4 linked regions of the Homo sapiens genome follow. The protein of the gene in region 1 purifies or fractionates together with the protein of each later gene. This does not show direct contact. Each region holds a gene or a part of one and is shown in the gene's direction. Other genes may lie near its edges.

Region 1 (8,512 bases):
ACGTGAGGGGTGGGGCTGGGCAGAGATGTTAGGAGGGCCCTGCACGAGCCTGCCAGCGAGGTCCTCCCAGCACCAGAGCCCGAGCCCATGTCTATGATTAGAAAAGCCTGTGATTTGGGAACTCAGCATGGAAGAGTCTGTGGTTTAGAGATTCCATGATTCAGTCTTCCAGACATAATGCCGAGTGGGGAAAGAGTTGCAGAAAAAGATATGCAATGTGATCCTACTTATGTAAAGTTTAAAAACGTGCACAAGTGTTTATATGGTTTGTGGATACCTCTCTATGCAGGAGATTCACTACAGAGTGAATTCACCATGGGGATGGGAGGAGGGCAGGGCTGGCGAGGGGATTTAACAGAGGTGGTGACCCTGGGCTTCCATCATATTCGTCATGTTCTGTTTCTTGTAGTGGGTCAGGGGTATATCAGAGTTCACGGTATTCATCTTTATGCCTTTTGGCACATTTTAAATCTTTTATTAAAAAATTCTTAATATTCTGGGTTTGGTGGTGCATGCCTATAGTCCCAGGCTAAGGCAGGAAGATCGCTGAGCCCAGGAGTTTGAGGCTGTAGTGTGCTATGGTTGCTCCCGTGAAAGCCACTGCACTCCAGCCTGGGCAGCATAGTGAGACCTTGTCTTTAAAAAAAAAAAAAAAGAAAGAAAGAAATTTGTAAAATGATGCCATTTTTTTTAGGGTCTATGTAATACTTCCTATTTTCTATAGGCATATATATGTAGATAAATGCATAGAAAAAGTTCTGGAAGGATCCACTCCAAACAGATGACAGCGGTCACCTCTGCAGAGATTGGAACGGGGAATAAGATTTAGGAGGGTGGGAGGTAAAGGGGGCTTTATTTTGTTTAAAGAGAATACATTTTCTTATCATTTGTGCAGTTAGGATTTCATTTCTTTAAAATGTGAAGCTTCAGCTAAAAGAAAATAAAGTCCCCAGACTTGAAGACTGTGTGGTCCTGAGATTTAGAGTCAGAGTGTTGACGGCTTTGCAGTTCCACAGTTGGAACGGAGCAGCGGGGGTGGGGGGTTCACTTCTGCCCAGCCCTGGATGAAGATCCTGAATCCCTGGGATTCGGGGCTCCCTGCCTTGAAGAGCTCTGTGACTGTCAGATCTGTGGACTGCATGCTCCAACCTTCTCCGTCCTCCCTCTTCCCAAATGCTGTCATGTTCCTCCCACCTTGGGGACAGATGGCCGCAGGTTGCAGGAGTGAGCCGATCTGCAGGAATGTTCCTGCCAGCCTGCAGGGTGGAAATTTTCCCGTTGAGGGAAGGGAGATGGATGTGAGATGTTTCTGGACTTACCCCTTGGCAGCTGCTCTCACCTTCTGATCCAAGCGGCTTCCCACAGTCCACAATGATGAGGCAAGGGCAGGGGTGAACTTGGGCACTTACAGAAACTCCAGGGGATGAAAACGCTGTCTGAATGCTAGGTTCCCACTGTGCCTTAGTCTCCAGCCTGCAGAGGTGGGTGAGTGGGTGGATGATTCTGTGATATAACCAGGGTCACAGGGCAGCAACCCCAAGGCTGGCTGCCCCTGCTTCCCACTCCAGACATCTGGTTACAACTGCGAAAGTGAGGAAAGTGGACAATTCCATCCAGAGTTCTGTAGCTCCACTTCTTATGTGATCAGGACCCTCTCACGACCACAGGCTTTGCATCTGGGAGGTGTGGCTGACAAATCTGCCCTGAGATTGGATGTCGAGGGCTTGGGGTCATGAGGTAGGTGAAGCTCAGCCTGCACAGGTGGGCGCGCCCCTTTTCTGAGACTCTCTGACCTCTCACTGCCTGAAGGGATGAACTTGTGGGTTCCGTAGTCAGAGATCAGAGTCGGAATCCCAGCTCCACGCTTTTTGGAGCCTCCTCTGTGCCTGGTCCGGCGCTGGATATTGAATGTCAGAAATCAAAACCGCGCCAGTGCAGGTGGGTTGTAGGCACTACCCACGTGCCCTGTAAATGATGTTTTGTAAAAGCCTAAAATCTTGGCATTTGTATCTGAATGCCAGGGTCCTTGCCATTTCCTCTGCTTTGAAATAACAGCATAACATGGAAGGAAAAGGAGAGTACGTTTATAAGAAGAAGTGCTGAAGAAGCAACGGATGTGCAGATGCATGTCATGGGCCTCCCAGGGAGCAAAAGAGGAAGCCCAGGAAAGGGACACTGGGTGCTCCACACTCAAGGCATCCAATTCACCACTCTGAGCCTGTTTCCGCCTCTGGAAGATGGAAGTGAGAAGAGAATCGCTAGTTGAGCAAGGCGGCTGAGAGGGGCATTGCTCTAGCCCGAGCCAGGCTGTGAGTTAGTCTGGGCTCTGCTGCTGCCTTGATGGGAGACCCCCGTATGTGGTGCAACCCATCTAAGCAGGAGTGGTAATTATGTTCACTTCGTAGGGCGCTTCTGAGAATTCACTGAGACCATGAAACAACTGGACCTGACACAAAGTGAGCCCTCCTGATGCAGTGGCTGAATTTTGATGTTATTAAAATCTTTTGAAACTCCAGTGAGGAGAGGGGTGGGGTGGGCTCTGCAACATGTTAACCCACAGAAATATGAATTCCTCACATGACTCAGGGAGGGAGGTCCGTGCTACAGGAAGATTGGTCATGCATATGGATTCACCTGGAGAGGGCAGATCGGGAAGCGTCATGCAGTTCTGTTCGATGCCTCACCTTGGCCACCTGAGGCCGCAGCTCCAACCTCTGCTCCCTACCAGGACACTGAGCTGGAAGACTGGGGTCCTAGTCCCACCTCTGCCACTCTTTGCTGTGCAACTTTAGGCAAATCGCTCACCCCCTGAGGTTCATTTCCTCCCCTGTAAAGGATGGAATGGAACTCAAGGATGCAGCATCACTCCTTCTAAATTCGGTGAGTGTGAATCTGGAGAGAATGGAAAGAGGAAGGGAAATGGCCCTGTGGGCTGCCATCCACATCCAGCCGATTCCCAGTCTCAACTACTCCCTCTCTCATTTATTCCTCCCAGTGAGGCAGCTTTCAAGCAGTCAAGAACCAAGACTCTGGAGCCAGACTGCCCGCCAGCTATGTGGCTTGGGCCAGTTGCTGAACCTCTGGCTTTAATGCGCTCCCCCGTGAAGTAGGATGATAGTATTAGGCCTCATTGGGGTTGTCTTGAGGATTACCGTGCACGGAAGAATATTATCTACATGCCTCTGAGATAGGTCTGGGATTCCTGGTTTACAGATGAGGAAGCAGAGAGGATCAGATGAACATCAGACAGGAAGAGAGAAATCTGTGTGGGAAAGGCGGGTGTGGGAGCCGAGGATGGATGTGCGCTTCTCCCCTCCACCTCCCTGTCGCACACTGCACCACGCTGGCCTCCTCTGGGCCAGTCAAATACACCAGGCTGCCTTCCGCCTCAGAGCCTTGACGCCAGCTCCTCCCCTGCTTCTTGCGTCATCCGAGTCTCAGCCACACGTGCCTCACAGAGGGCCTTCCCGACCACCCCGTCTGATGGCAGAAGCCTCCTTCCCGCCTCTCTTGGGGTCCCTGCCTCCCCTCTTCCTGCTCTCTTTTCATCCTGATCCTTATCACCACGTGCAATCCTATATCTGCACACTTACTTCCTGGCTTCCCCTTAGACTGTAAACATCATGAGGGCAGATACTTGCCCGGCACATGGAAGGTCCTCGGGAGAGGAAGAGGCACCATAGCTAGACCAGAAATTCTCCCTAGCCACGTGCAGCCCCCTTTGGGACAGGACTGGCACAAACGAGGACTGCTCTGCCATCCACCGTGCAGCTACTGGCGTGGTGCGCCCTCCTGGAACCCCGTGGTATAGCTGTTATGATCCCTTTCACAGTAGCATAATCAAGACTCCCAGGAGAGACGCGGCTTGCCAAGGTCTCATCGCCCTTCAGTGGCAGAGACAGCCTTGGAGTCGGCCGGCCTCACTCCAGGGCCAGAGCCCCGAGAGCTCCGCGGCTCGCGTGTCTCAGTGCCGAAGGCAGAAAAGCCGCCTTGGAAAGTAGTGTCATCGTAGGCTCCGCGCGGCGCGTGCATTTTAGCAACAGACTTCCAGGTTTCCAGCGCGGGCCAGGAAGGGGCCGGCGCCCCGCGCCCCGCCGGGTGTGTGACTTTGCCGCGAGGGCGCAGCCGAGCGGCCGCGCCTGATGCTGCTGTTGCCATGGCGACCAGCGCCTCGGCGATTGGTCCGGCGCGGCCGCACTACGTTGCTCCTTGGGCGCGGGGGGTGGGGGAGGCTCCGGCGCGCCCGCCCCTTCTCCGGATGCTGCGAGAGCAAACCCGGGGCAGCCTTCTCTCGACCCTCCCCTCCTCATCCCCGCGCCCCGCACCCCGGATGGACGGGAGGGAAAAACCCCAAGGTGGGCCCAGGTAGCAGCGAGGTGGACGCCCCCGCCCAGCCTGGCGACCACGGTTACTCGACGTCCTCGCTCGCTCCTGGGCACGGTGTGAGCGCGCGCTACGTGCCAGGGCCCTCCACAGCCCGCTGCTGGCGCCGCCCCCCGCTCCCGCCCCAGCCTCCCTGGAGGAGCCCGCCACCCCCGGGAATGTGACTCGCCCCGCGATTTAATTTTATTCCCCTCCACTTCTTGCCTGAGCCGCCTGCTCCTCTTGGAAACACGTTGAGCCTCCCCGCTGGAGAGGGAGCCAGAACAGGGAAGAACGGATTCACACAGGATGGCTTGCAGAAGACGCTATTTGTGAGTATATGTGGCAGGTTTCTGCCTGAAGCCAGAGGCCAGAGGGGCCCGGCTGAGCTGGGAGCTGGAGTGAGGGGCATCGTTGGGGGAGGGGCAGGTGGATGTGCAGGTGACTTGCAGAGGGAGCTGGCCACCCAGCAGGGATGCCGGCGCTCGGCCCCTGCAGCGGAGGTGTTTGTTGGTGATGACGATGAGAAAAAGGCTATTAGTCAGCAGGTCTTCAGCAGGCTGTGAAATTCCCAACTGTGAGAGCAGGTATCCCCCCTCCCAGATCCACATTCAGGGTGCCCAGACCGGCTCCTACTGTTTTGGCTTTGGTTTAGCCCATAGCCTGTTTAGGAAGAGAATCTCTGCCCAGCACGCCCATGGCCAGCCCTTCAGCCATGCCTGATAGAAGGTCGCAGGCAGGCTGAGGCAGTGGCCAGGATGCTGCGTCCTCCAAGGGCAGGTGAAGGTCCAGCCCACCGTCCCTAGCACGGAGGCATCAGTGTCCAGCTGTGTGCCCAGGTGTTCTGTGGGCTGGCAGCAGAGCGGCTGTGTGCTGGGCCTCACGCCAGCAGCAGAGGCTGTGAAAGTCTGCACGGGGCGGTGACATCACGGGCCCGGGTATTTATGGAAACCAAAGCCTGCGCTTCGGTTAGCCAGGCTTCCCAGGGGGCAGTGGGGTTCGAATGCCAGCTTCCCTCACAGCTCTCTGGGCGCTGCACTGTGCTGTTCTAGGAGGAGCAACCTTTGCCCTCCTCTGGGACCCTCGGCTGCGGGGGTTGAGGCCCAGCGTCAGGTCTCCACCTGCCTAAACTATTTGCCCAGGACCCACTCATTTGGGGCTGTGCAGTGACCTCAGACCTTAGGAGGTTAGAGAGCATGGCTGAGTCCTCTTGAGCTGGGCTCAGTCGCAAGGCTAGGAAAAGGAGGCCTGGAGCAGTATGTGGGGAGCCTTCTGGGGGCTACCCCAAGGCCTCCCTAATCGATGGAGGCCCCTTACCATGGCAGGGGCCTGTGGAACCCCTGATAGAGTGGCAGCTCCCCGTCACCTCCACTGAGGGAAAGTAAACACACCTCTGCCTCTGCTGCGTCAGCAGTGCCAGGCGGCAACCCACGGGGGATGGCGGTGGCCTCTGGTTCGGGGGATGGCGGTGGCCTCTGGTTTGGGGGATGGCAGTGGCCTCTGGTTTGGGGGATGGCAGTGGCCTCTGGTTCAGGGAATGGCAGTGGCCTCTGGTTCGGGGGATGGCGGCCTCTGGTTTGGGGGATGGCGGTGGCCTCTGGTTCGAGGGATGACGGTGGCCTCTGGTTCGCTGTGATGCTCACTTGCTTTTTTAGTGGAGAAGCTCACAGGTTGGTTTGTCGATGCGAGCAGAGCACACCAAAGTTCTCACTCCCTGTGGCAAGGCCCTCGCTGCATTTTCTGAAACAAATAGTAAATCCTTTCCCAGCGTGGAACTTCCACCCCAGTGGCTGGGAATAGGTCCTCCTGAGACAGCTGTCTCCTCCCTGCCACACCTTTGCCTGGGCCCAGGAGCCTGATGCCAGAGAAATTCTAAACTCTCAGGGCTGTTACATCGGGGAGGGGAGATGTCATGAGGATGAAATGTGACAATTCATATTCAGATTACTTGGCCCAGTGCCTGCTTGCCTCCAATGCTCAGAAATGTCATCCTCACAAAGGCCTTGTCTGGGCAGGCACTAAGAACCCCATTTTAGAGATGGGGAAACTGAGGCTCAGCACAGTTCTACTGGAACCCTGGAGTATACTAGCCTGGGGTGGGGGTTGTAGCCCAGGAGCTATACTGGAATCACTTGAGGAGCAGTTAAAGAAACAAACAAAAAAAAAAAAACAAAAAAAAACTGTGTGGGTCCCACCCCCAGACATTCTGGTTTCTAGGTTTGGGGGAGGGCTCAAGCCTCAGGATCTTTTTCATTTTCCGGATGATTTTAATGTCCAGGTGTGGTTGATGTTCCCGTGATGCAGCTATTCACTGTGGCTGCGTTGCCCAAGCCTATCCAATTGCAGTTTTGCAGGGACAATGTTCTATATGGATTCCAATACTCTTCCCTGGAGAGTCTGCTTCAATCTGTTGGGGGCCCAGCCACCTGCATTTGAACACGTGGCTCTGGTGGATTTGCTGATTCCTGGAATAAGCTCGTCTAGCCTTCCTGCCTAAGAGAGGGGCTGGCCCGAGGGGGCTTAGCGCTCACTGTCTTTCTTTTCTGTGGGTCTTTTCACTCTTCTCCAGCTCTCAGGCTCCCAGTCTGAGCATTGTGACTCCCAGGCCATCCCCGCTCTGCCACCAAACCTATTGGCACCAGAAATACCAAAGATACTTGGAGGGGGTGGCTCTGTTTGTACGCAAGGATCTTGTAACCAAGAGCAGGCCTTTCCTGAGGTTACCCTGCTGCACTTGATAAGCCTGTGTTTGCCCACCATTACTCCCCACCCAGAACCCGCGGCAGGCCCACTTCTAGGCCCAGGCTCTCCCAGCACCTGCTGCTCAGACCTTATTGTTACCCTGCCTTTCAGTGTGGAAAGGAGATGGGGTGTTGAGCATCTCTAGATGTTTAACTTTCCCAACAGTTGCACTGTAGCCACTATCAGAGCTGCCCAACTTGATTGCAAAGCGTTCTCATGCTTAGTTGCCTCATGGGGTCTCACCAACTGCTGTAAAATGTGATACTGTCGATCCCGTTTTACAGAAGAGGAAACTGAGGCTCAGAGAGGGGAAGGAACTTGACTGGGGTCACACAGCTGTTTCCTGCCGTACATTTGGCAGTGGTGTCCCTTCCCCAGCATGCCACATGTCAAATCGGGACAGACTTGCTCCAGCGGCCCTGTGCATGGCACAGCCAGGCTATCCTCAGCCTAGTGGAGCCCTGCCGGCGGGCCCCCACCCCCACCCCACTGTCCTCACTCCCTAGCCTCCATTTTCGCCACTTCCACTCTCTGGGCCCCTGGTGTGCACCCAAGGGAGCTTTATGGAATCGAGACTCTGTCCCGGTCAGGGCTCAGTCCATCGTGAAGGTGGCACACTGGATGGGATAAAGGATGACAACAAAAGCAGGAGAAGATTTCTTAACCCAATGGGGGAACATCAGGAGGCTTCCAAGAATCAGACCCTGAATCAAACTTGCTAACACCTGAGGTCATTGCTGTACTGGCAGCTTCATGAATGGTGTCTGAATGAAGGATGGCCCTCAATTCTGTAACTACAGCATCCTTTTCATCATCTCTGCAAGGGGCCCCTCTGTCCTCATGGGCATGTCACATCCTGTCACTTGAACACAGGAAGTGAGGCTGTGAGGAGTTTGTGGTGTGTGAGATGTGGGCTGCTTGGCCAGGCCAGTGGAGCACTCGCCTACCCATGCCTGTTCAATCATTCATTCACTGCCTGGAACTGTCCCGACCCCTCTCTTCCTTCTGTTTGGGGGACATGATGACCTGCCGGCCCCCGCAGGAGGCAGTGGTCTCCCTCTGGTGGGATGCCCTGACCTGCTGCTTGCAGTGGGGCCTTCATGAAGGAAGCGAAGCCCTGGTGGGTCTCCCCTAGACAGAAGAAGGGACACTGGTGGGACTGGGCCTGGAACATTCCACACACACACACACCTCCAAGAAACTTGTGCATTGAGCCTTCACCATTATCACCTTGGCTGGGTCAGTTCTGCAGGCACAGTTATCAGCATCTGCTGGACAGTGGGCCTGGGCTGGATGCCAGGGAAGAGCAGCCCCAGCCCACCGAGAGAGATGCAGGGAGGGAACCGGAGGCCCAGTCTTCACTCAAGCACGTGTGATGACCGGTAGCCTTTCTTGCCATGCAGTGATC
Region 2 (8,049 bases), on another chromosome or scaffold:
CGGGGACAAAAAGAGGACAGAGCAGGAGTGAGGCTGTGGTGAGGCCAAGGTTGTGTGGGCGGTGATACGGGGAAGCCTGGCTGCTGGAGTGTCCGGCTGTGCCCTGGATTGGGTGAGAGGGACACAGGAGGGACGTGGGGCAGAGGGAGGGGAGAGGAGTAGCCACTGTGTTCACCGTGTTGCCGTGTTCCAGGGCTGCCCAGTGGCCGGATTGGCCAGACTGTGTTGCATCAGGGAGGCAGAGGCCAGATGTAGGGAACTGTGTGTCTGAGGACTTTGTGCCACGTCCTGGACACCGAAGGGAGTGCCACTGGTGTGTGAGTGATGGAGTAAGAGGTGGGCTGTGTTTTGGAGGCCCCTGGGTATGTGTGGCCGGGACTGGAGGCCAGGGACTGGCTGTGGTCCAGCCCCAGCATGCAGAGAGGCCTGGGACATTCTGTGTGAGGGGAGGCCCCTCTGTGTGGGAGGTGCACAGACTTCCAGGACTGACCATGGCTTTATTGTCAGGATGCAGGAGCCAGGGCTTGGCATGGGGCAGGTGTGGGGGATGCAGAGCAGGGCCAGCAGGCAGGATGTGCTGATGGGGGCCTGGCGTGAGCAGGACGGTGCCTCCCAGCCCTGAGCCGCAGGGAGTGGGCCACCAGGACTGGCTGGGGGCCGGGGTAGGGAGGGCCCTGGGGAGGGTGGACATCTGTGTGGGTCTTGAACATAGGATGCCCATCCGATGTGCAGGGCCAGCTATTGGTTGGGCAGTGGGGACATGGCCTGGGGTCTCGGTGGGCGATGGCCTGGAGGGGCCACCCTGAGCAGGACATTTGGAGGAGTGCTGGGGTGAGTCAGACAGGACCATGTGGTGGTTTTCTCCAGTGCAGGCAGTGGAGGGGGAAGGCGGAGCTTTGCAGGTGAGGGCTTGAGGCAGTTCCGACTTCAGACTCCCCCCCAGGGAGACTGAGGGACCACCACCATCATTACTCAGGCCAAGGAGGCCCAGAACAGGGCAGACGGGGCTGCAAGAGTTCCTATGGCGATAGTTGTTGGGGCACAGGGTTGGTCGGATTTGAGGGAGGGAGGGTATGAATCTGGGAGTCGTTGGTGCGGTTGTACCCACCTTCACTTTCCGTCCCCAGGCTGCGCCTCTCCTGAGCTGCCGCATTCTCCCCTGCACCTGTGCGTCTGGCCCTCTTCACGTCCTCCTGGCCTGCTGTCTGCCTCTCCCCTGCACCTGTGCGTCTGTCCCTCTTCATGTCCTCCTTGCCTGCTGTCTGCCTGTTCTCAGAGCCCCTCAGCCCTCAGGCCTTCATCTCTCCTGGCCCATCTTCCTACTCTGACGCTGACATGTAGTAAAAGTCTGAAGACAGAGAAGAGTGCATGTGCGTTTAGCATAGGAGGGGCAGCTTTCAGTCAGTGCAGCAAGGGCATGTAGTTGTTCAGAGATGGTGCTGGAACGACTGATTTGGAGAAAAGAGGCCCTTCTTCACACCATCTGCTAAAATAAACCTCAGATGGGCTCAAGAGTTAAATATTTAAGAAAAGGAGGAAACAAAAAAATTGCTACAAGTTTATTTGTTGTTAGGATGGGAAAGGTTTTTCTAAGAACCAAGTTCATAATGAAGCTGTCAAATAAAATACTTGACAAAAAATTCCCCTTCATACATTAGCACAGCTAAAAACTATTAAATGGTAAATGCAACTAAAGAATTGCAGCTAAAGAATTGTGTGACGTAAAGAGTTGCAATAAGAAAAGCATAAGATAAAGGTAACCTCATGGAAGGTGAGCAGGGACTAGAAAGGCAGAGAAATGCCAGAGGCCAGGAGCTTGAACGTTGTTCAATGCCACCAACAATTTGAAAGTAACTGTAATAGTTTTGACCTGGGAAGTTGGCTGAGCAATCCTCTAATATCTGATGCTCCCGATGCTGAGGTTGTGGGGAAGTGTGCACCGCCATGCCCTTTTTTTGGCAGTGTAAATTGGTAAAGCCTTTTGAAGGAAAATAGGGCAGAATAAGTCAAAGAGCATTAAAATTTTTTTGTTTTTCCAGAAGCAGCAAAGTTCTGAAGGAGACGCAAGTAAAGATACCACAGGTGTCCTAGATTGTCAACAGACCATTTAATCATTTTTGTTAACAAAGCAGGTGACAATTGAGCCCTAATTTGCGTTATCATTAGTTGTTACAGGATCTTGCTTGTTCTCCTGAGGCCACGCCACGATTTCCGAGAAGCAGGTTGCACACTCAGCAGTCTCCCACTAGCCAGTGGCACTGCAGGTGCAGGGGCTGCCTCCTGGACCTTTCAGGACGCTTTGCAAGGTCACTGAGGATCTCCATTGCACATTTGGTAGAATTAAAAGACTGCCAGACTCAGTCTTACTGTTGTTAGTGTATTCGTGCTGTCAATATGTGATGAGGACATATTATATTCCGTTATTCTCTTTAGCTCAAGGAAGAATAAAGAATTTGGACCAAAATTACAACCACATTATGACGAATTTTCTAAGCAAAAGAAACAAAGTAACTGCTGAGGTTAACAAAGATGTAATAATTCTCTTCACACAGCCTTGTACTGTTTTATTGACTGTATTATCACAAATCCTGAGCTTAACGAAAGTCTTTATAAGTCAGCTCATGAAAACAGGCACGTGGCCAGTAAGAATTTAATTTCATACCAATAACACTTCAGACTTCGGATGTATTTAAGGCTGTTTGCACATATTTATAGAATGTGTGGTGTAGATGATGGGACAGCTCCCCCTCAGCAAGACTCTGGCCTAAATGTATTTGCTTTATTTACACAACAAGAGGATAAGCGTAAACACGGGCACTTTCAGTTTGTGGCACTGAAGGACGATCTACACAGGGCACCCTGCAGAGGCCACAACCAAGGCCGCCTGGCTTCCCAGTGGGACAGGCCTAAGGGAGGACTTCTGGCCCCTTTGCTTGATGTTCATGTTTTATGCCTTGATATTTCTTTTTGGTTGCATTCCCTGGAGCTCATGTAGATCATTTTACTTTTCAGAGGTGCTAGTTCTGGTGCCCACACGCACACACACAAAACCATCAACTCTTCTGGATTCCTTGGTTTTAAAGCTTGCCTCATACAAAGTACAGAGACATCTTTTTCAGGAAACATTGCCACCACATGCTTGAAGGACCGCTTATGGCTACACTTAGACATCTCCAACCAAGGTCTCTTCACCTCCTTCTACAACAATGCACTTTGTCTGCACTGGGACAAAAAATGACAGCCTTTTTTCTTTTCTTGTTTTTTTTTTTTTTTGGCGTGGAGCATTTCCGAACTTTCACGTCATAAAAAATGCAGCATAGTTAATCAGCAGCTTGCACTTCTGAGGGCACATTCACCTCGGGGGAGGAGGAAGGAGGAGGAGCTGGTGGGTGCTGAGACTGCAGTGTCCTCCTTCCCAGCAGCTGGACCCAGAGACCAGGCACCAAATTTTTTTGATGAAATTATCCTAAGGAAATAATCAAATTTGTACAGAAATTTATGTTAAAAAATGTTCATGGCAGCACCGTTTAAAATGGGGAGAAAATTGGAAACAACAGAATTGTAGCAATACATATGATCATTAAAAATTATGTTTTAGAAAGATTTTTAACAGTCTTTGGAAAAAGTTGGTGACATGTTGCTAGTTTTTAAAAAAAGTACAGAGTATGTACAGTATGATTCCAATTTTGTGTTTAAAAATTAGACATAGTGGTAACCTAGCTTCAGTTCCAGATAAGATGGAGAAGGCATACTCCTTTCATGTCTCCCACTGAATGCAGCTATAAATCCTGGAGAGTAGACAGGGAGAAACTATTTGAGGACTCTGGAACAAAGACATAGTAGCAATCGACTGGTGAAGAAGACAAGAATTTGAAGTACGGTCAAGTATCTGTGGGCTCCACATCTGTAGATACAACCTACATGTATTGAAAATATCAGAAAATAAAAATAACAATACAACAATAAACATCAATACAAATAACACACCAATACAGTATAGCAGCTACTTACATAACACTGACATTGTATTAGGTAGAAGTAATCTAGAGATGATTTAAAGTCTGTCGGAGGATGTGTGTAGCCTGTATGTAAAAACCACGTTATTTTATATGGGGGACTTTAGCATCCAAGGATTTGAATATCCACGGGGGTCCTGGAACAAGTTCCCCATAGACACCAAGAAACAACTGTATTCCTGAAACAGTCTTGAGTTATCATTTTCTTTCTTCTCCCTCTATGTATGTACATAGAGTGTACATACATAGAGTGAGAAGCAAAGAAGGTCCATGAAATGGACCAATTCTTTTGAAAACTGCAAATTACCACAGTTCATCTAACATGAAATAGATAACCTGAATGGTCCAATAACTAGTAAAGATATTGAATTAATAGTTTAAAAACCTTCTGAAAGGTAAATCTCTACCCTAAATGATTTCACTGGTGAATTCTATCAACACATTTAATGAAGAAAAAACTCCAGTTCTAAACAACTTTCAGAAAAGAAGAGGGAACACTTCCTCACTCATTATATGAGGTAAGCATTGCCCTAATACCAAAACCAATGTTAACACAAAATATGAAACCTACAGACCAATAACCCTCATGAACATAAATGTAAAAATCCTCAAGAAAACATTAGCAAATTTAAACCAGCAGGATATAAAAGGAATAATAATACACCATAACAAAAAAAGAAACTATCCTTGGAATGCAAGGCTGGTTCAATATTTGAAAATCAATCAGTGTAATCTACCATATTAACAGTCTGAAGAAGAAAAATCATGATTATATCAATACAGAAAAAAATTGACAAAATTCAACATCAGTTCATGATAAAATTCTCAGCAAACTAGAAAGGGAAGGAAATTTAACATGACATAGGACATCTACAAAAAAACCTACAGAAAATCCTAAGGAGTCTATGAGAAAATTTCCTAAAACTAGTAAGTGAGTTTAACAAGATCACAGAGTGCAAGGTCATCATACAGAAGTCATTTTTATATCTTAGCAATGTACAATTAGAAATTAAAGAATATCACAGTAGCTTCAAAAATATGAAAGGCTTAGAAATCTAACAAAATGTGATCTGGATGCTGAAAATGATGAGATGATAATGAAAGAAACCCCAGAAAACCTAAATAAATGGAGAGATAAGAAGGCTCAACCTAGTAAAGACGTATGTTCTTTTTAAATTGATCTGTAGACTTAATAAAATTCCAATTAGAATCCAAGCAGGATTTGTTCTTATAGATAAGCTCATTATGAAATGTATATGGAATGTAAAGGAACTAGTGCTATGGTTTGTCCCCACCAAATCTCATGTTGAAATTTGATCCTCAGTGTGGTGGTGTTGGGAGGTGGGGCCTAGTGGGAGGTGTTTGGGTCATGGGTGTGGATCCCTCATGAATAGATGAATGCCCTTCCTCGTGGGTAGATAAGTGAGTTCTAGCTCTTTCAGGTCCCAACAAGAGCTGGTTGTGAAAAAGAGCCTGGCACGCCCACTTGCCTCTGCTCCCACCCTGTGGTCTCTGCACGTGCCAGCTCCCCTTTGCTTTCCACCGTGAGGGGAAATAGCCTGAAGCCCTCACTGGATGCCCAATCCTGAACTTTCCCAACCAGCAGAACCATGAGCCAAATAAACCTCATTTCTTTATAAATTACCCAGCCTCAGATATTCCTTTTTGGCAACACAAAAATGGACTAAGAGAACTAGAGTAGCTGATAGAATTTTTTAAAAGAAGGGTAAAGTTGGAGGAACTATACTACTTGATTTTGAAGCTACAGTAATCAGGACAATGTGGTGAAGGGACAGACACGTAAGTCAATGGAATGGAGACGAGAGATTTCTACAAATATGGTCAATGGGTTTTTTTTAACAAAGGTACAAAAATCAATTTAATGGAGAAAAGACAGTCTTTTCAGCAAATGTTACTGGAATAGTTGTCATCCATATCTAAAAAACAACACCTCAACCTCACATCTCATACACAGCTGAACTTAAAATTGATCATAGATCTAAGTGTGTGAAATGTAAAACTATAAACCTCCTTGAAAAAATCATAGAAAATCTTCATCACCTGGACTTGGGCAAAGACTTTTTACTCTAAAAGCGTGATCCATAGCAGAAAATGTTGATAAATTGAATTTCATCAAAACTAAAAATGACTGCTCTGCAAAAGGATGATGCTAAGAGAATAAAAAAGACAAGCTAAGATTAGGAGAAAATATTGCAAAGAACATATCCAGTGTGTGTTCTGAATATACAGAGAAATCTCAAAACTCAACAGGAAGAAAACAAGCCAATTGAAAATGGGCAAAATACTTGAACAGACACTTTACCAAAGTGGATATACAGATATCAAATACACACATGAAAAGATGTTCAGCATAGCCATCAGGGAAATGCACATTAAAGCCACAGTGAGATATCACTTACACCCATTGAAAAATGACTACAATAAAAAAAAAATCTGATAGTAATACCAACTGTCATCGAGGATGAGGAACAGCTGAAAGTCATGCATTGCTGGAGGGAACATGCCACTGTGGAAACAGGTGGGTGCTTTCTTATAGACTTGTATGTGCACTCACCTTATGCCCAGGAGTCCCTCTCCTGTGTGTTCAACCCAGAGATATGCAAGCTGTGTTCACACAAAAACCTGTATGTGAATGATTATACTAGCTCTCTTTATAATTGCAAAAAAAAAAAAAACAAAACCTGGAAACAACCCAAGTGTCCTTCATCTGGATAATCCTTAAGGATAAACTGGTGCGTCCACACAGTGGAATACCACTGAGCAGTGAAGAGGAGCCAGTTATTGAAACAGGTAATTTGGAGGAACCCCAGAAACGGTACAGTGAGTGAAAGAAACTTGTCTTGAAAGGTTATGTACTGTTTGGTTCCATTTGTATGATATTCTCAAAAAGACACAAGACCATGGGGATGGAGACCAGATCGGTGGCTGGAGAGGCTGGGGTCGGGGAGGGCATGACCACCAGAGAAAAGGGTGAAGAGTGTTTTGGGTGGCAGAGCTGTGTGTATGCTGGCTGTGGTTGTGAGGACAAAATCCACACAAGCGCTCAAGTTCGTAGGCTGTACGCCAGAAAAGCTGTTTCACTACATAACTGAAAAAATAAGATTGAAAAATAAGATGTATATATTTTTTGTGTGCGTGTGTAGAAAAATACTTGAAGGTAAACTGCAGAGTGATAACAGTGGTTCCTTCTAGGTACTGGGTTAATATGTGATTTTTATGTTTGTTTGAGCTTTTCTAAGTTTTCTACATTTTCCGTACAAAACATGTATTACTTCTGTAATAAAAGCAGCTTGAGATTATTTAAGGAAGCAAAACACTTCTGTTGTTTCTCATCAACTACAGGATGAAGTGCAGGCTCCCTGGGTGGTTTGCAGGGGCCACAGGCCTTGGCCCCACCTCGCTGGTGCTCCCTCTACTCCTTTCTGTGTTTGAAGCAAGTTCTGGTTCAGACAGAAAGCCTGGCCTTTGAGGGCGTTGGGTCCCCACTTCCTCAGTCATAGATGTGATGTGCTTCCCTTGACTTGGGACCTTCTGAGGGATGCAAGGTGGACCAAAGGACCCGTGAATGGCCAGGGCATGCCTGCGTGGCTTTCGGTTTCTTAAGCAGTGATTTCAGTCCACTTAAAGGGTGTGAAAATTCTGAGAATGCTACGGACCAAATATATTTTATGTAACAGTTGGGACCCGGCAACACTTCAGGGCTCTTTCAAAATCTGGTAGCTACGAGCTCTTCCGTGACTGAGATGGGACAAGAGTGAAGATTTGTCCTTGCTTTTAGCTCTGCTCCAGTTCATAGTTCTAATGGGAAATTATGTGACTTAAACCCAGGCTGTGAGATGCATCAGTGACGTGTGGGCATAAAATAAACCCTCGAGATGTTCTCTTGCATGGTACACTGGCCTAGGCAGGAATATTCTTGAGGCTAAAACTGTAGAACTGTCAGACTAGTGTTACGAATGTGGTGGTGAGAGGCCTGTGCAGCCGCGGGGCCTGTGATGTGTCTCCTGTGTGT
Region 3 (8,049 bases), on another chromosome or scaffold:
CATGCAAATTTAAACAGTGTCTCCTCTTATTAACTCCTCAGCCAATAGGAGTGGAAGAATATTAGTTTCAGGAAAGGATGTCTGTGAAATTGCTACTAAATCAAACCCGGGGTTGGAAAACTAACAAAGAAAGATCGCAACATTTCTATATTTTTTCCGTAGAAAATTCAAATAATAATAGGTGTTGAGAGAGGCCAAAGTTCCTTTTTGTCTGAGTTTCACTGTGTGCTGAGGAGAGGATCAGGGTGCAGGGGAGGGGTGGGAGATAGTGGCTAGATAAGCCTTGTACCCAGTATTTGTCAATACAGGCATGGCCATGCAGGGTCCAATGCCAAGGAGCAGCATGTTGGACATTTGGTGGGCTGGAAACACCACACCAGAACTCTCCCTGGGACATGCCCTCTGGGAGGTTATAGGAGGTGAGCCTTCTGCTAAGTTCCTGCATCTCCTTCCTGGGGCATCCTGTAACCTCTACTGAGCACTGGCACCCATGATACAGACACTCCTGCTCCCAACATGCTCCCAGTCTAAGGCAGGATACAAACCTAGTGAAATATAATCCAGGGTGCTGTAAAACCTTGGATGTAAAGGCAAGAGAGAGAAGGGAGAGTAAAGCTAACCTGGCCGGGTGTAGTGGCTCATGCCTGTAATCCCACTTTGGGATGCCGAGACAGGCAGATCACGGGGTCACGAGATCGAGACCATCCAGGCCAACATGGTGAAATCCCGTCTCTACTAAAAATACAAAAATTACCCAGGTATGGTGGTGCACGCCTATAGTCCCAGCTACTCCGGACGCTGAGGCAGGAGAATCGCTTGAACCTGGGAGGTGGAGAGTGAGCCGAGATCATGCCACTGCACTCCAGCCTGGCGACAGAGCCAGACTCCGTCTGAAAAAAAAAACAAAAACAAAAGCCAAAAAAAATGCTAACCCAAGAGGGTAAGCCTATGGAGGAGGGGATATTGGAGCTGGCCCTTTAAAAATGAATAGGAGGAGGCCAAGGAAGGAGCATCACTTGAACCTGGGAGGCAGAGGTTGCAGTGAGCCGAAATCGCGCCACTGCACTCCAGCCTGGGCGACAGAGTGACACTTCTTCTCAAAAAAAAAAAAAAAAAAAAAAAAAAAATTGAATCGAGTTTCCCTGGGCTGTGAAGGAAGGCAAACGACCCTGTGGTGAAGGGAATAGCCTGAGTCTCAGCACAGACCTGGGAAAGAACACAGAAGATTCTGGAAACAGCTAGTGGTGTAGATGGGCTGGAGAGTTGGTGCCTGGAGAATGTTATGGAACCTGAAGACCTGGTCCACTGAAACAGGGCTGCTAAATACTCTGTCTGAACAACTAGAGAACAATTCCATGCATAGGGCTGAAGTTTAATAAAATATAAATATAGTTGTGACAATAAAACACTTTATGGTCCCTGAAATGGTGCTATATCAGCTAGCTAAACATAGCGCTAAAACCTTCATAGAAATGCTAATGGATTGCTATTCAGTTGCTAAATATTTATATGAAGATAAAGTTCTAGATGCTAACCATTATATAACACTACAGATTAACCATAGTCTGTTGATACAATTGTGGGGAGTAGAGGTGTAAGGATCAGTATTCTGGAGTGTTGTTTTCATTCATTCATTCATTCACTCGACAAACATTGAGTATTTACTTTGTGCCAGAAGGCTAGCGGTGAAAGGACAGGTCTCAGAAAGGCAGGGTTCTTGCCTTCAAGGAACTTCCAGTCTAATAGTGAAGACACACAGGTCAATCAAAGAGTGCCTTAAAATGAGATGGACTCTGAACACACATTCTGTGCATAGTGGGCACACACGAGCCGGGGGCAAGATAATGCTGAGGACTGAGAAGTGGACTTCAGAAATGAGGTGGTAGTAGAGATGACTATTGAAAGATGAGTTGGGAACAAAGGCGTTCAGGGAGAAAGAGCACAGGAAGGGCAGGCCATAGCTGCAAGGCCATTTTTGGACAACTGCAAGTTTTTCTTGAACAAAATATGAAGTGGGGGTGGGGGTGTCTTTTAAATTTGTAAAGTATTCACAGTTGGTCAAGCTATATAATTACCTGGCTGCCTGCCAAAAAAAGAAAAAAAGAAACCACCTGTGTGTGCATGCTTTTCAGCTGGCTGTAGGATTTAGTCAGCTGGCAAGTGTTTATTGCGTGCCCATTATGTCCATATGCAATAAAAGGCATATGGGGAAGAAAGAGAAGAAGAAAGCAGGCAGAAACTCAAATATTGTGAAAAATGGATTGTTTCGTGTTGAGTGCCAGCTACAGTTGTGGTTTCATCTGACTCACTGACCAGCAGACAATGCAGCTATTGTGGTGGTGGCTGGTGCTACAGTCTCGTGGCACCCTTGGTGCTCTTGTGCTGCAGGTCTCAGCACCTGTTTGCATAAAGCTGCTTGATTGAATCACAGCTTTGATAGGAACAGTTTTACTTTATCACCTTAATAAAGAATTGTCATTGCATCAAAAGGCAAACTGGAGATCTTCCTCCTACTGCTGCTGCTGAACTTCTAGCAACGCAGTGTGGAGACAGAAAGGTGTGATGCCTTTCCTCACTCATCAGGGTCACAGCTAACACTCCTATCACAGGAGACAGAGTGACAAGAGAAAAGCATAACAAATTTAGTTAATCAAAGTTTGATGTGACATGGGAGGCTTTCAAAATGAAGATCTAAAGACTCAGGGAAAAATGTCTGATTTTATGCTTAGGTTTGATGAAGAAAGGATGGGCGTGTAGAAATGTGATTGAACAAAAGGGTATGAGTCAATAGTAATAAACTGAAACAGAAACCCAGCAAGGCCTGTCCAGATTTTTTGGGCCTCACTGTGTGGCATTTCTTCCTCCTGGGCAGAGGGCAGGACTCCCATGAAATAAGGTTTTCAAGGGAAAAGGGAGAGAGTGACCTTTTTAGGTTTTATGATTTGCTTTGGGGCGGAGTGGTTCTGGTTTCTGAGACCCACCTTGGGGAAAGGAATTCTGTTTTCCATGACTTGCTTCAGGGGAAAATGCGAGAGGGTCAGAAAGACCTTGTTTCTGGCTGATATCCTACAGCCAGCTGAAAAGCATGCACACACAGTTTTTTTTTTTTTTTTTTTTTTTGTCAGGCAGCCAGCGGCCTTTCCTATGTTCCCATGTCTAGTTCAAAGTACTCAGCACACCAATGTGCCGTACTTTGGGGTATCTTATTCCGAGCCCCAACAGCAGGAAGAAGACAGGATAGGCATAACAAAACTGCCTATGGGGTACCACTTACAAGCCTCCAGGTAGTTTCCACTTCTGTAATGTCCACAAAAAGCCAAGAATTCCCCATGGCACTTTTTGGGAGAACTGGGGTGTAAAGGAAGGGCCCCTGTGAAGCAAAGCCATGAGCAAAATGACTGGGAATGCTCTACTTCATCATTATTAAAGGCAGACTGACTTGAAAGCTGGGTATTTTTTGGAAAAGTGCTAATTGTGAATCCTCATCTTACTCTGTCCTTCACCACTGACAACTTCTCCTCAGTCCACGTGGCTGCCCAAACTCTCACCTCTGTGTGTAGACAAACACAAACCCCACCTTCCTGCCAGTGCTTTAACCCACATTCTGATCTCTTGCTTCCTGTTCACTGCCAGATTTCTTAGAAAAAGGTATCTCTACTTTCCAGCATCCATAGGATAGCATCTTGCTCTTGTCATGGCTAACCAACACACAAGAAAAACCCACTCCTTATGCCTCTCTTTGTAAAGTAGCACCAGGAAAACTTCCTGTGATGGAAGTCTTGAAGTATCAGAGTCACAATCTCAGAAGCGCTAAGGACTAGCCTTATACAGTGAATTAGAATTCAAAACCCCAAATGGAAAGGCTGAGGATCAAACAGCAGTCCTAAATATGAGTAGTAAGGGAAGGGGAAAAGCTAGTTTGGGGCAGTATCCCTTAAAGCATATAATAGGGAAGATATTAAAATTCAGACAACTGAGACCACAGCTAAATTCTGTAACATATAACTCCATGTTGGTAAGCCGTCCATGTGGGACTAGGGTTCTAGAATGATCTTGTACAAGGTTTTAACCTCTTAAAGGCAAATTGCCCAGAGACAGGAAGATAGAAAGATGGATAGCAAGAAAGAGATATATGTTATCATATAGAAAATTGTAAAAGGTTTTTATGATTCATATAAAAATAATTCCTTAATGTCTCTGAAGAATTATACTCCATGGGTTTCAAGGGGAACGTTGACAAACTGGGATGGCTTCCAGACCCTTTGCACATATTCCCATTTGTCAGTGTGCTATGAGTCCCGGCCCGAGAAACCAGGCAAATGATCTAAGTCCAGAAAGCAGCAGAAGAGGTTGGGTCCCTCTTCTGTCAGGAGCTCTTTCCTCCAGACAGAGAAGCTAGCACTTAGCAAACCACTTCAGGCTCTCTAAGGTAAGATAATGGAGCACAGAAGGAAGGGACTCCTGCATCTCAAGGCATCTTTCTCATTGTAGGGACACAGTATTTTCCATCTCATGAAAGAGGAAAACAAGAAAGGAAGAGGAGAAGCACAGGGTGGCAAGGACAATCTTCTTCTGCTATTAAAGCAGTTATGGCATTGATTCCCCTGCATCCTTAACTCCGCAGCCCCAGGTGCCCTCTGTCACACCACATGCCCTTCCCAGGTCCTTCACTCAGTCTGGCCTCCCAGGTGGTCCATTCTCCAAATTCACTTATTTCTCCAATCAGAATATCAGAGACCAGTCCTCAATTGCCAAAACACATACACTAATCAACACAGCAAACATAGAAAAAATGAACAATGACAAGCAGAGATAAGAATAATACAATATTCTTATCCAAATGTGAAGATTTGACCTAATTCTCCTTGTGGTAGAGGAATTCATTGTTGAGGATTTTAAGATCACATAGGAAAAGGAATATGGAAACCGTGGACATGAATGAACCTATAAGAGAGTACTTTAAAGTCATTTTGCATGCCAAAAAAGTCAAACAGCACACAAAATTAATAAATAATAGGTAATAAAGATATCATCAGAATGTTAAGTTTTTTGGCCCCATTATACTTGGAACACAATGAAAAGTCATCACTGTGACCGACAAGGCCCTACTTGAAGTGCCCCCTCTGTACTTACCCAAATTCACTTTAAGCCCTTTCCGTCCTACCTCTCCAGGCTCACAATGTGCCCCACATGTTATATGCTGGCCATCTGACAGTTCCTAAAACATAATGAGAACTTTCCTGTCCTAAGGCCTTGGAAATTACTTTCTCCTGGGCCTGAAATACTCTTCCCTCTGTTGCTTTTTTGTTTTGTTTTGTTTCTATTTTGACAAGTTGCAAACATATAACAAACATCTGTGTTCCTACCACCAAAAATTAAGTTATTTATATATATAATATATGTAATATATTATATAAATATATATTTATATATAAATAATATATAATTTATATATATAGATATAAATTATATATATATAATATATATATATAGCAGTGAAACAGAACAAATGTGGTATCAGAGCCACAATCTCAGAAGCATTAAGGACTAGCCTTATACAGTGAATTAGAATTCAAAACCCCGAATGGACAGGCTGAGGATCAAACAGTAGTCCTAAGTATCAGTAGTAAAGGAAGTGGGAAAGCTAGTTTGGGGCAGTGTCCCTTAAAGCATATAATAGGGAAGATATTAAAATTCAGGCAACTGAGACCACAGCTAAATTCTGTAGCATATAACTCCATGTTGGTATATATGCTATATATATATAGCAGTGAAACAGAACAAATATATATATATATATATAAAAATATATATATATATATTTATATATATATATATATATATAAATATATATATATATATATATTTCTCCCTGTACCCAGGTAAATGCCTGCCATGTAACAGTGCCAAATATTTTGTTTTCTGATTAGCTAGATAAATTGCTGATTTAATTTCAGTTTACTGGGTTTTGTTCAAAATGCTCATAAATTTGCTTTATTTCTTGTGGATTATTGCACCTTTATTTGCTCCTCCATCTAAATATTCAGTGCTTTTTTCCCCTTATTTTTGGGGCTGCCAATTCCCATAGCCTACTAGGATCCTGGAGATGGAAAATACCTTGAGTATTTGTGGTAGAGCTTTAGATCACCTTTATTTGACCTGCTTATTTCACTAGAGCTGAATAGCATTTTTAACTATACCCTCCCCCAACCCCGAAAAGGCAGCCTTAGCTCAGCCTATGAAAACCGTGTGTGTAATCACATTTCTAACATTTGACTTACACCTCAGTTCTGATTCTTCTCCATCTCCTTTGCTGGCACTAGTCTTCTAAATATTGGCATTGCCTAGGTCCCAGTCTTGATCATGCTTTTCCTTTTCCCCTATTTTATCTTCCTAAGTGATCTCACCCATTCCTGTGGCTTTAAATACCAAATGTGTGCTGCTGGCTTCCAAATACATATGTCCAGGCTTGACCTATCTTTAAGCTCCAAATCTGTATACCCAATCCCCTACTTAACATTTTTACCTGAATGTCTTACAGATAAAATAAATAAACCATTTTACTAAGTCCAAAATGAAACTTTTGATTTTTGCCCCTCCTCTTATCACCACTCACAACCAGTTCTATTCCTAATCTTCCCTATGTTGGTATGTTGCGCTACACAGTATATAGTACAATGCCCTCTACATCTCTCAATGGGTGTTGGCCCCATATAGTACTGTATTGAGTATATCAAATATTGTAAAATCACCCACCCACCTGCTCAAGCCACAGAGCCATCCTGGGTTCTGACCCATTTTTTATCCCCCATCTCCAATTCTTGAACAAGTGTAATGTTTTTTTTGTTTGTTGTTTGTTTTTTGTTTTTTGTTTTTTTGTGAGATGGAGTCTTGCTCTGTTGCCCGGGGTGGAGTGCAGTGGCATGATCTCAGCTCACTGCAACCTCTGCCTCCTGGGTTCAAGTGATTCTCCTGCCTCAGCCTCCTGAGTAGCTGGGACTACAAGGCATGAACCATCATGCCCAGCTATTTTTGTACTTTTAATAGTGATGGGGTTTTGCCATGTTGGCCAGGCTGGTCTTGAACACCTGACCTCAGGAGATCCACCCACCTCAGCCTCCCAAAGTGCTGGGATTACAGGCGTGAGCCACCACATCCAGCCCTGAACAAGTGTAGTGGTTTTTAGCTCCAAAATAAGTCTTGAATCTGCCTACTTATCTCCAGTTCCACTCTTAACACCCAAGTCTAAGCTACCATTATCTCTTGTCCAAACCAAGGCAACAAACTCCTCCCTGCTACCAGTCTTGCCAGTCTTGCATTTTGAAGAACTAATCTCTACATAGCAGTGAAGGTGGACTTTATAAATAAGAAACCTATAGCGTCAATGCCCTCTACACCTCTCAGTGGGTGTTGGCTCCATTATACTTGGAACACAATGAAAAGTCATCACTGTGACCGACAAGGCCCTACTTGAAGTGCCCCCTCTGTACTTATCCAAATTCATTTTAAGCCCTTTCCGTCCTACCGCTCCAGGCTCACAATGTGCCCCACATGTTATATGTTGGCCATCTGACAGTTCCTAAAACATAATGAGAACTTTCCTGTCCTAAGGCCTTGGAAATTACTTTCTCCTGGGCCTGAAATACTCTTCCCTCTGTTGCTTTTTTGTTTTGTTTTATTTCTATTTTGACAAGTTGCAAACATATAACAAACATCTGTGTTCCTACCACCAAAAATTAATAGTTACTAACTTTTTGACATTTTTCCTTGGATTTGAACATTAACGAAAGAACAATATAAAGGTAAATTCTCCTTGTTCTGCCTGTGTTCCATCCCCCTTTCTCCTTACTCAGAATGAGTAAGGGATATTGCTGGTTCCTTACACTACATACATTTCTTCCTTCCTTCTGTTTAGCAAAACCTTGACTTTGTTAAGGCATTCACACACTGCCCACTCCCACCTCCACCCTCTGCCCCAACACCCTCATGTGTTCAGCAGAGGCCATTTGCAGCACGACTGTGGCCCAGGAGATAAGAGGGCAAGTTTCC
Region 4 (8,049 bases), on another chromosome or scaffold:
GTTCTCTTGTCTCTAAATTGGGGATAAAAATGTTTTCCTGATAACAGTACCTTTACGTGTAATGGTTCATGTATCGTATTTATTACAGTGCCTGTTTTATGGTAAATATTCAATACATATTAGCTGTTTTTATAATTAATTCCTCCCACTACATCATGATCCAAACTGACTCTTTTCTTAAGTGATGGGGAAGGGAACTGAATATTTTAAGGAAGTAGCTATAAAATATGATTTCAAGTTGTTCTGTAGTAATTTTGGTGTTCCATAAGGACATTTTAATGTGAAAAAGATACTGACAGAATCTATACATGGTTTGAATTTATTAGTTTCTAAACTATGACCAGTATTAGCAGATTTAAAATTCATAATTATAGCAAGAAAACGTCAAAGTTGTTTAACAGTGTTAAAATTTGAAACTGTAATGATCCAGAAAAATGAAATACCAAACCGATAATTTTGGGAAAAAAACAAAACTTGAGTGGCATTATGCAGGCCATTTACTTTTTAAATGTACTCAATATAAACAGGAATCCCTTCTCTCCAAATTTCAGTTTTTCAGAATTTGGGCTGTCATTTGAAACACTTACTTTGGGCACTTTGACTGTTAAAGAAGCAAAGGGTATGCTAAGAACTTCAATGAGTCTTGATGTTAGTGTTTTTGTAATTAGGTGGAATCTCCTACCTTTTCATGAAAACTGGGTTTAAAGCAGTAGCTGCTGGGTCCATTCTAATGATAATCTCAAAAATGTGACTGACTTGTAAAAATCTACAATTATTTATTAATGTGAGACTAGGTAAAGTATGAGTTGAAAAACTAGGAAGAAAGGCAGAGTGGTGATTTTTAAGCTTGTATAAAGGAAGGCCCGCTTTGGGTACTATGAGGTACCTTTCTCACTCAGAGGCATGCTGTGAGGATTTGTGACTTTTAAATCATTTAGCTCTTTTTATAACTTTGTGGAATTAAATCTACCACGTATTTCAAGTGTATTCAGGATATGAATTTTCCTGGTAGAGAGTTTTAACAGATTTTTTTCTCTTAACCCTTCATTGATGACCAAACAATTTTGTTGTCTGTAATAAGAAAGTACTCGGTTTTGTAGGGTGTCAGTCCTTAAGAAAATGTTAGGTAGTCATCAATAAAATAGCAACAATCTCTGGCTTGTTTCTTTTTCATATTGCATTTAATTTTCCTTTCCCTGTCTCTTATTCATCTGTATATGTGATGGTGCTTTCTTTAGCTTATGTCTTGATGTTTGCCTGCATGTAGCTGAACTGATTGATCCAGGTGGGTAGAGGAAAAAATATTTAAATTGGTAGTTTTTGGAGCTATTGTATATTTCTTTCAAATTTGAAGAAAATTTACAGTTTTCTCAATACCTATGAGAAAAAGACTGGGGTTTGTTGGCAGAGTTTCGCTTAGCTGCTAGTGAATTATGTCCAGAGAGAAGATCAGCTTTCATCTCATTAATTCCACAAATTGATCATCTCATGTTTCCCTTAATTATCACATTTTAAATATTTTTCTTTTGAGTCATCACACAGTTCTTCAGTTCACATGGCCTCCCTATCAGGAAGGGAGTGGTTTAGACCCAATAATGGCATTTGGGTGGGCTAACATTCACTCCAGGATTTTTTTTTCTTCCACAGCCTAAATTTTTGTAGAGCCAAGATCTTAACTAAACTTGGGGCAATTGGCTAAGCAAACATATAACAAGGATGATTATAGCAGCTCTTTAAAAGAGCAATAAAGTAGAGCAATCCAACTGTAAAGATTAGTGGGGAAATGGATAAACTGGTTTATTCATGCAATTCAATACTATCTTCTCATAAAAATGAATGAGCTAGATCTATACTTACCAACATATATACATCTCAAGTATGTAATACTGGGTGAAAAAAGCAAAATGCTAAAGGATTTATACAGTAAGATGCATTTGTGTACACTTTGAAAGCAACATAATAGCATGCATTATTTATTGATATGTGTATATCTAATGAAAGTACATAAAAGTAAATATGAAAACGTGGGAATGGGATACATTAACTTTAGAAATAGTAACTAATTCTGAGTGGAGTTTCTTCACCTCTGTAACTTATTTTTTCTTGTGTTTTAAAAAAGAGCTGAAGCCAATATGAAAATATGTTAATATGTGTTAAAACTGGATGATGAGTACATAGATTTGTTATTTATTTTTACAGTTTTATGTATAGTTAAGATAGTTTGTGAAACTAGCACTTTAACATTTTTATTTATAATCAGGACTGTTTCCCAATATGTTTGCTTTATTTTACTTTGTACCCTCAAATTAGGAGACTGTGGAAAAAGAACTCTTCTTTCCCTGCAATAAGAAAGGAATGTGCCAGTGCAGCTCCACTATGTAAAGCTTTTCTAAGGAGAGGAGACAGACCAATTATTTGGTCAGTTTTGCTTTGCTGTTTGTGCTCCTGGGAAAATGCTTTCTTTAGGACATGAAGCCTGCAGGGGAATTAACATTCTAGAGATGCTTGGGAAATGTAGGCATATACCAATCATGAACTCTGGAAGTATAGGGGAGCAAGTTGTATAATAAGGCCCTCAAAGGAATTTGGACATGTTGTGACTCAGATACAAAATTACTACAGATTTGTGTAGTATTAGCATTAACACTTTGAAAAGCTTAACTTGGTTACATTTTATTACAACGTAGTTATCTTGAGTTTATACCTTGAATGCAAGTATCCCAGTTGTTGCTCAAAGAAAATAGTTGTCTCTATAGATATTAGTAAGTAACCTGATGACAATGTGTTAAATGGTTGACTAATGAATAATACGTTTAGTAGCTGATCCCTAATGTAACCTCAGTATTTAAACTTGTGAGTTAAACAATATTTTTATTTCTAATAAAGAGAACCTGCTACTAGCACTATTAAAGCAAGTGAAACTTGTATCACGAGAATAATATTTTTTAGTATGTGTATTTCCTGTTTAGTTATGTGGCCCCTGAATGATCCTAAGCACTGTTATCAGTTGGTGAAAGAAGTCATCATACTTTGAACTGTAAATCTAATATTGCCTTTGAAAAAATTGTGGCCATTTTAATAAGAGAGTAGTTGCAAATATTAACGGAATAAGTAGTTTGTGTCAGGACTTACCAGGACATTCACTGTACCATGTAATAACAGGCACAAATAGTGGCAGTACCTGGGAATTTGAAATTCATTTGTTAGTATTATAATATTCATCACAATGCATCATGGGATTATTATTTAATAATCCTGAAAAATGTGTTTAAAATATGCAGTGGGTACAAAAAAGAGCTAAATGGGCATTGCTGGGAACTTATTGTACCATGTTTACACACTTTCCCCCCACTCCACCATGAATAATTTCCGATTAGAGGATCGTCATAACCAGGAGAGTGTAGTTTCAGTAAGTTTCAGCATGAAATTAGCAAGGCATTAAAAAAAGACTGTAAAGTCTTCCTGTTTCTCATTGCACCAAAAGCTGTCTGTGTACTAAGGAGAAAGGGAGAAAGGAACACTTCTCTGAGTTGTTTAACCATTTTTAAAGTGACATGAGATAAAAGTGTCTTCATTGTTAGGATATACCTTTAGCAAATTATATATGAGAGTTTCTATTAGGAGAAGACACTTTTTTCTTTTGTATCTGTTACTGACTTTTATTACAGGCACTAGAAATCTATAGCGTGGAAGTCTGTGGATTGCAACTGAAAATCAGGGGCTGTATCTTTCACTCAAGCACTCACTTAAATGTAACCAGCTTGTTCAGAATGATTATTATGGGTACAAGAGTATACCGGTGAATAAGTCATAGTCTCTGACCTCCAGGAGCTTAAAATATATTTTGAATCAGTGACTTAGTGCATATCCTATTAGTAACAACATTATAACTAATAAGTAGCTTTCTAGGCCAGCCTACCGAATATATCCAATGCCTTAATTTACTGAATTCTCTTACTCTGAGTCAAGATTTGAAGGCTCATTGGCTCCCATACTGGTATCAGGCAATGCTTTCTGTGCAGCAGTTAAGGCTGAGAGGCGTGGGGTTCCAAGTGGCCTTCTTGGTGGTTAGTTGGCCAAGGCTTCAGTGCAAGGTGAGTTTTCCTCAGCCTTCCACAGTGGTTGGGAAGGCTTCAGTGGCAGGATATCCAGGAAGTAGCAGTTGTTGTTGGTGTATAGATTATTTGTAAGTCAGGTGTTTGAGTCAAAGGTTACCATAATCCATGTGTAAACATTGACCTAGCCTCTAAAAGCAAATTATTTATTAAGCATTTACCATGTGTAAAATACCAGACTCTGTTATTGTTTACTGCAAAGTGTAAACTCTGGTTTACTACATTGTAATAATATGTAACCAACTCAGACTTTAAAAAGGAGGTGTTAATGACTATAGGAAATTGATGGTAATTTTGTATCCAAATCACTTGTCACTCTACTACATTGTAATAAAATGTAACCAACTCAGACTTTAAAAAGGAAGTGTTAATGGCTACATGAAATCTATGGTAATTTTGTATCCAAGTCACTCAATGTCTATATTCCATTCAGGGCATTATGATACAGTTTACTCACCTATTATTTTTATTGCCTTTCTATCTGAATGTCTTGTCATTCTAATCACTGATTAACATTACTCTTATAACTACAATTATTACTGTTGTTTTACTATTTTAAACCGGTAATTGAGACAGGAGAATAAGACTAGGAAGGCCCAGTTTTGCTAGTGTAAATTAGCTTTCTTATCCCTTAAGGGTACTGTCTAACTCTATAGAGAGCCATTATTCTAATGAGAAAGAGAACATACTAGTATGGAAATTTCTTAAGGGCAGGAAGTCATGTATTTACAGATGTTTATTGAGTACCTGTTATATATCAGGACTAAGCTGCTGGGATGTACTAGAAAATACGATATTTGTCACTCTGCTTCCATGGAAATTTTAGACTAGCATAATACCTGGAACATAGTAGATGAAAAAAAATACATGTGGTTTTAGTGGTTGAAATTTAAGCATTTGCAAGTTATTATACTTATGACTCACAAATTTACCTTTCACCGAATTAAGCCAAAAAGACTTTATCCAGAAAATAGTTGAGTAGAGATGAATACATAGGATCCTGCATGATTTAACTTTCTCTTTGCATTTGGGATAATACACTCAACACATTTCTCTACCACATTTAAAATTTTTATTTATATCCTGCCTTCTTCCCAAAAGGATTTAAAGCAGCTTACAAAAATGTATAGCAGGGTGGGATAAAATAAAGAAACAGACTATACAACATGCATACTGTGAAGTCCTCTTCACTTCCAGGTACCATCATATGGAACCCTTATCCTCCCACCACAAAATGTATAATTCTGCTTATATCTGTACCTGTGATCTCTCTTCTTTCAAAAACGTAGACCTTTCTTCTTATGAAAAAAACAATCCCCCCACATATATTCTGGATGGCATCCTCCTTCACTTTGTCTGGGACTTTGGCTCTGCCCACTGTCCTCATCATCCTTGTATCCAGGACCACAGCCTTTGTCATGCAGACATATTCAGCTTCCTCCCATCTCCCCAACCTCCAGCAAAAGAAAACCCTTCATTTTCACATTCCCCTTCAGCTACTGCTCCATTTCTTTGTTTGCCATTTCAACATTTTTCAAAAGGATCACCCACTGAAAATAAAGATATTTCCACATTGTCACCTCCTGTTTATATTCAGCTTACTTCAATCTGGTTTTCAGTGCCCAAACAAACCACTGAGATTGTGGCCATGCTCAGCCGTTACCTGTGTTGGCAAATCCAATGGACACTTTAGTTATCTTACAAGACCCCAGCTGCCTTGACCTAATTGACGTCCTCCCTGAAGTGCTTTCCTTTGCTTTCATGTGCCCACGGCAGACCACTTCTCAGTCTCAGTCCTCTTTGTCCGATCCTCATCCTATCCAACTTCCAGGCGCAGGAGCTCCTTAAAGCTTGACACTGCGCTTTCCTTTCTCTTTCCATATACCCAATGACATTATCTATTGTCTTGTTTTTAAACACTATCCATACGCCCTCCCAAGTTTAGCAGCTGCTGAGACTTTTCTCTTGAACTCCATGTTCATATATTCAGCTATTCACTTAATATGTACTCTTGGGTTTCTCACAGACATCTTGAACTTAAAAATAAATTTTATCCTACCAGAATCTTATCTTTGCTTCAGAATCGTATCTCCCTCACTCTTGCCCATTTCAGGAAATGGAGCCACCAACACACAGCTATTTGAGGCAGAACCAGGGATCATTTCTGATACCTGCTTCTCCTTGGTCCCCCACCTTTGTCTAATCACCAAGTACTAGTTGTTCTGCCCCCAGAGCATCTCTCATTTATTCACCTCTTCTTCACCAAATTGGCAGCATTGTATGAAACTTAAGAACCCAGGCTTCCTTCCTCCATTGAGAAGATGAGCCGATGGAGTATTTGCAGGCAGGATATTCCTTGCAAAAATTCATTTTGGTGCTCCGTGAGTGTTCACCATAAAATTGGTTTAAAACTTTTGAAACAAATGTAAATCGTCATTGAAATAAATCATTGGCCCTTCGCATTGGCTCACGCCTGTAATCCCAGCACTTTGGGAGTCCAAGGTGGGCAGGTCACAAGGTCAGGATTTCAAGACCAGTCTGGGCAACATAGTGAAACCCTGTCTCTACTAAAAATACAAAAATTAGCCAGGTGTGGTGGTGTGCACCTGTAATCCCAGCTACTCGGGAGGCTGAGGCAGGAGAATCATGTGAACCCAGGAGGTGGAGGTTGCAGTGAGCTGAGATCATGCCATTGCACTCTAGCCCAGGCGACAGTGCAAGACTCCATCTCAAAAATGAAAAAAAAAAAAAAAAAAAAAATCATGAAAGCATCCATAGACTGTCCCACTGGAAGCAATGCAACTCCCCAGTGTACTCTCCAAAATGAAGTAAATGTTCAAAGTACATAAAAGAAACCAAGTTAAGTATAAAATAGTTAAAAGTTTTGAGACTTCTACTAAAAAACGATAGTTGTTTTTGAATATAGATTCCTGGTCCTTTATTCAAAACCCTTGGGGCAAGGTGCATTTTGGAATTCAGATTTATGTTTTGTTCTTTAGAGTAAGATGCATAAACTATATATTATATAACACTTCCTGTGGGATCTGTGGTGCTGCCCTATTCATACTGATATTTCTACAACACGATGTATGAATATTCACACTAAAGGGATAAAAGTGATAAATAACCTCATATCAGTTCAGGTCAGATTTTGCTGTCAGATGAGTTCAGGTCAGATTAGATTTTGCCACCAAAAGTGTTATTGAAAAAACTTTTAATTTTCAGAGCTATAGATTTCTGGTTAAGGTATTGTAGACCTGTAAGATGGTTGTAGCTCATCTTTCTAACAGTTGGGACATCTAGACTAGATTGTTGTTGTTGTTGTTGTTGTTAAGGGCACTTCCAGATCATGGTATTAAAATGATATCCTTGGCTCGTACAGGACAACTTATTTCTCTGTTAGATGTAACAGAAGGATGTGTATCCAGTGGAGTCTAAAAGTGGCATCAGTTTATTAAGAAGCAAGGTTTGCTCTTTGTTTAAAGGGCCCCCTGGGGTTTTGTTACTTTACATATCACTGTGAAGGAGATAATAATTTGAAGGATAGAGTGGTATGCTTTAAAGTGAATCTAGCTGTGTCCTGCGGTTCAGAAGACTGAAGTCTGGTTTGCTCATTTTACGGAGATGCCATTTATCTGTGGAGAGGCCATGCAAGGTAAGAGAGGGTCCCACAGTAAATGCTGTTTATGCAACATCACATGGCTTCTTTATCAGAGCTGGTTAACAGGTCTATGCAGGAAAGTTACTGTAACAGAAGAAAAGCAGCAGAGTACAAGGATCTTGCCCTCTTAAGGAATGATAAAGACCTTAAAGCTTCTCTGGAAGAAATATCCCCAGAGGAAGTTTTATGATTAGGCAATTTTATAAAAACTTAAAATGTTAAAGCAATGAAATAACATACAGAAATTTGAATGCTATTTGACTGGTTGAGGTG

The links.
Region 2: the proteins of IQSEC1 (region 1) and PRMT2 purify together in Homo sapiens (co-immunoprecipitation; one large-scale study listed by IntAct). This does not show direct contact.
Region 3: the proteins of IQSEC1 (region 1) and SLC2A12 purify together in Homo sapiens (co-immunoprecipitation; one large-scale study listed by IntAct). This does not show direct contact.
Region 4: the proteins of IQSEC1 (region 1) and ALS2 purify together in Homo sapiens (affinity purification with a luminescence readout; one large-scale study listed by IntAct). This does not show direct contact.

The regions. Positions count from the first base shown.
Region 1 is NC_000003.12:13,069,174-13,077,685, reverse strand, and holds the start of IQSEC1 (IQ motif and SEC7 domain-containing protein 1), read left to right. Parts: upstream 1-4,256; 5' UTR 4,257-4,671; coding exon 4,672-4,694; intron 4,695-8,512. UniProt on the Homo sapiens protein: Guanine nucleotide exchange factor for ARF1 and ARF6. Guanine nucleotide exchange factor activity is enhanced by lipid binding. Accelerates GTP binding by ARFs of all three classes.
Region 2 is NC_000021.9:46,650,679-46,658,727, forward strand, and holds part of PRMT2 (protein arginine N-methyltransferase 2), read left to right. Parts: intron 1-1,127; coding exon of another isoform or gene 1,128-1,328; exon of another isoform or gene 1,329-2,166; coding exon of another isoform or gene 2,167-2,376; exon of another isoform or gene 2,377-4,419; intron 4,420-8,049. UniProt on the Homo sapiens protein: Arginine methyltransferase that methylates the guanidino nitrogens of arginyl residues in proteins such as STAT3, FBL, histone H4. Acts as a coactivator (with NCOA2) of the androgen receptor (AR)-mediated transactivation.
Region 3 is NC_000006.12:134,030,223-134,038,271, reverse strand, and holds part of SLC2A12 (solute carrier family 2, facilitated glucose transporter member 12), read left to right. Parts: intron 1-8,049. UniProt on the Homo sapiens protein: Insulin-independent facilitative glucose transporter.
Region 4 is NC_000002.12:201,771,677-201,779,725, reverse strand, and holds part of ALS2 (alsin), read left to right. Parts: intron 1-8,049. UniProt on the Homo sapiens protein: May act as a GTPase regulator. Controls survival and growth of spinal motoneurons.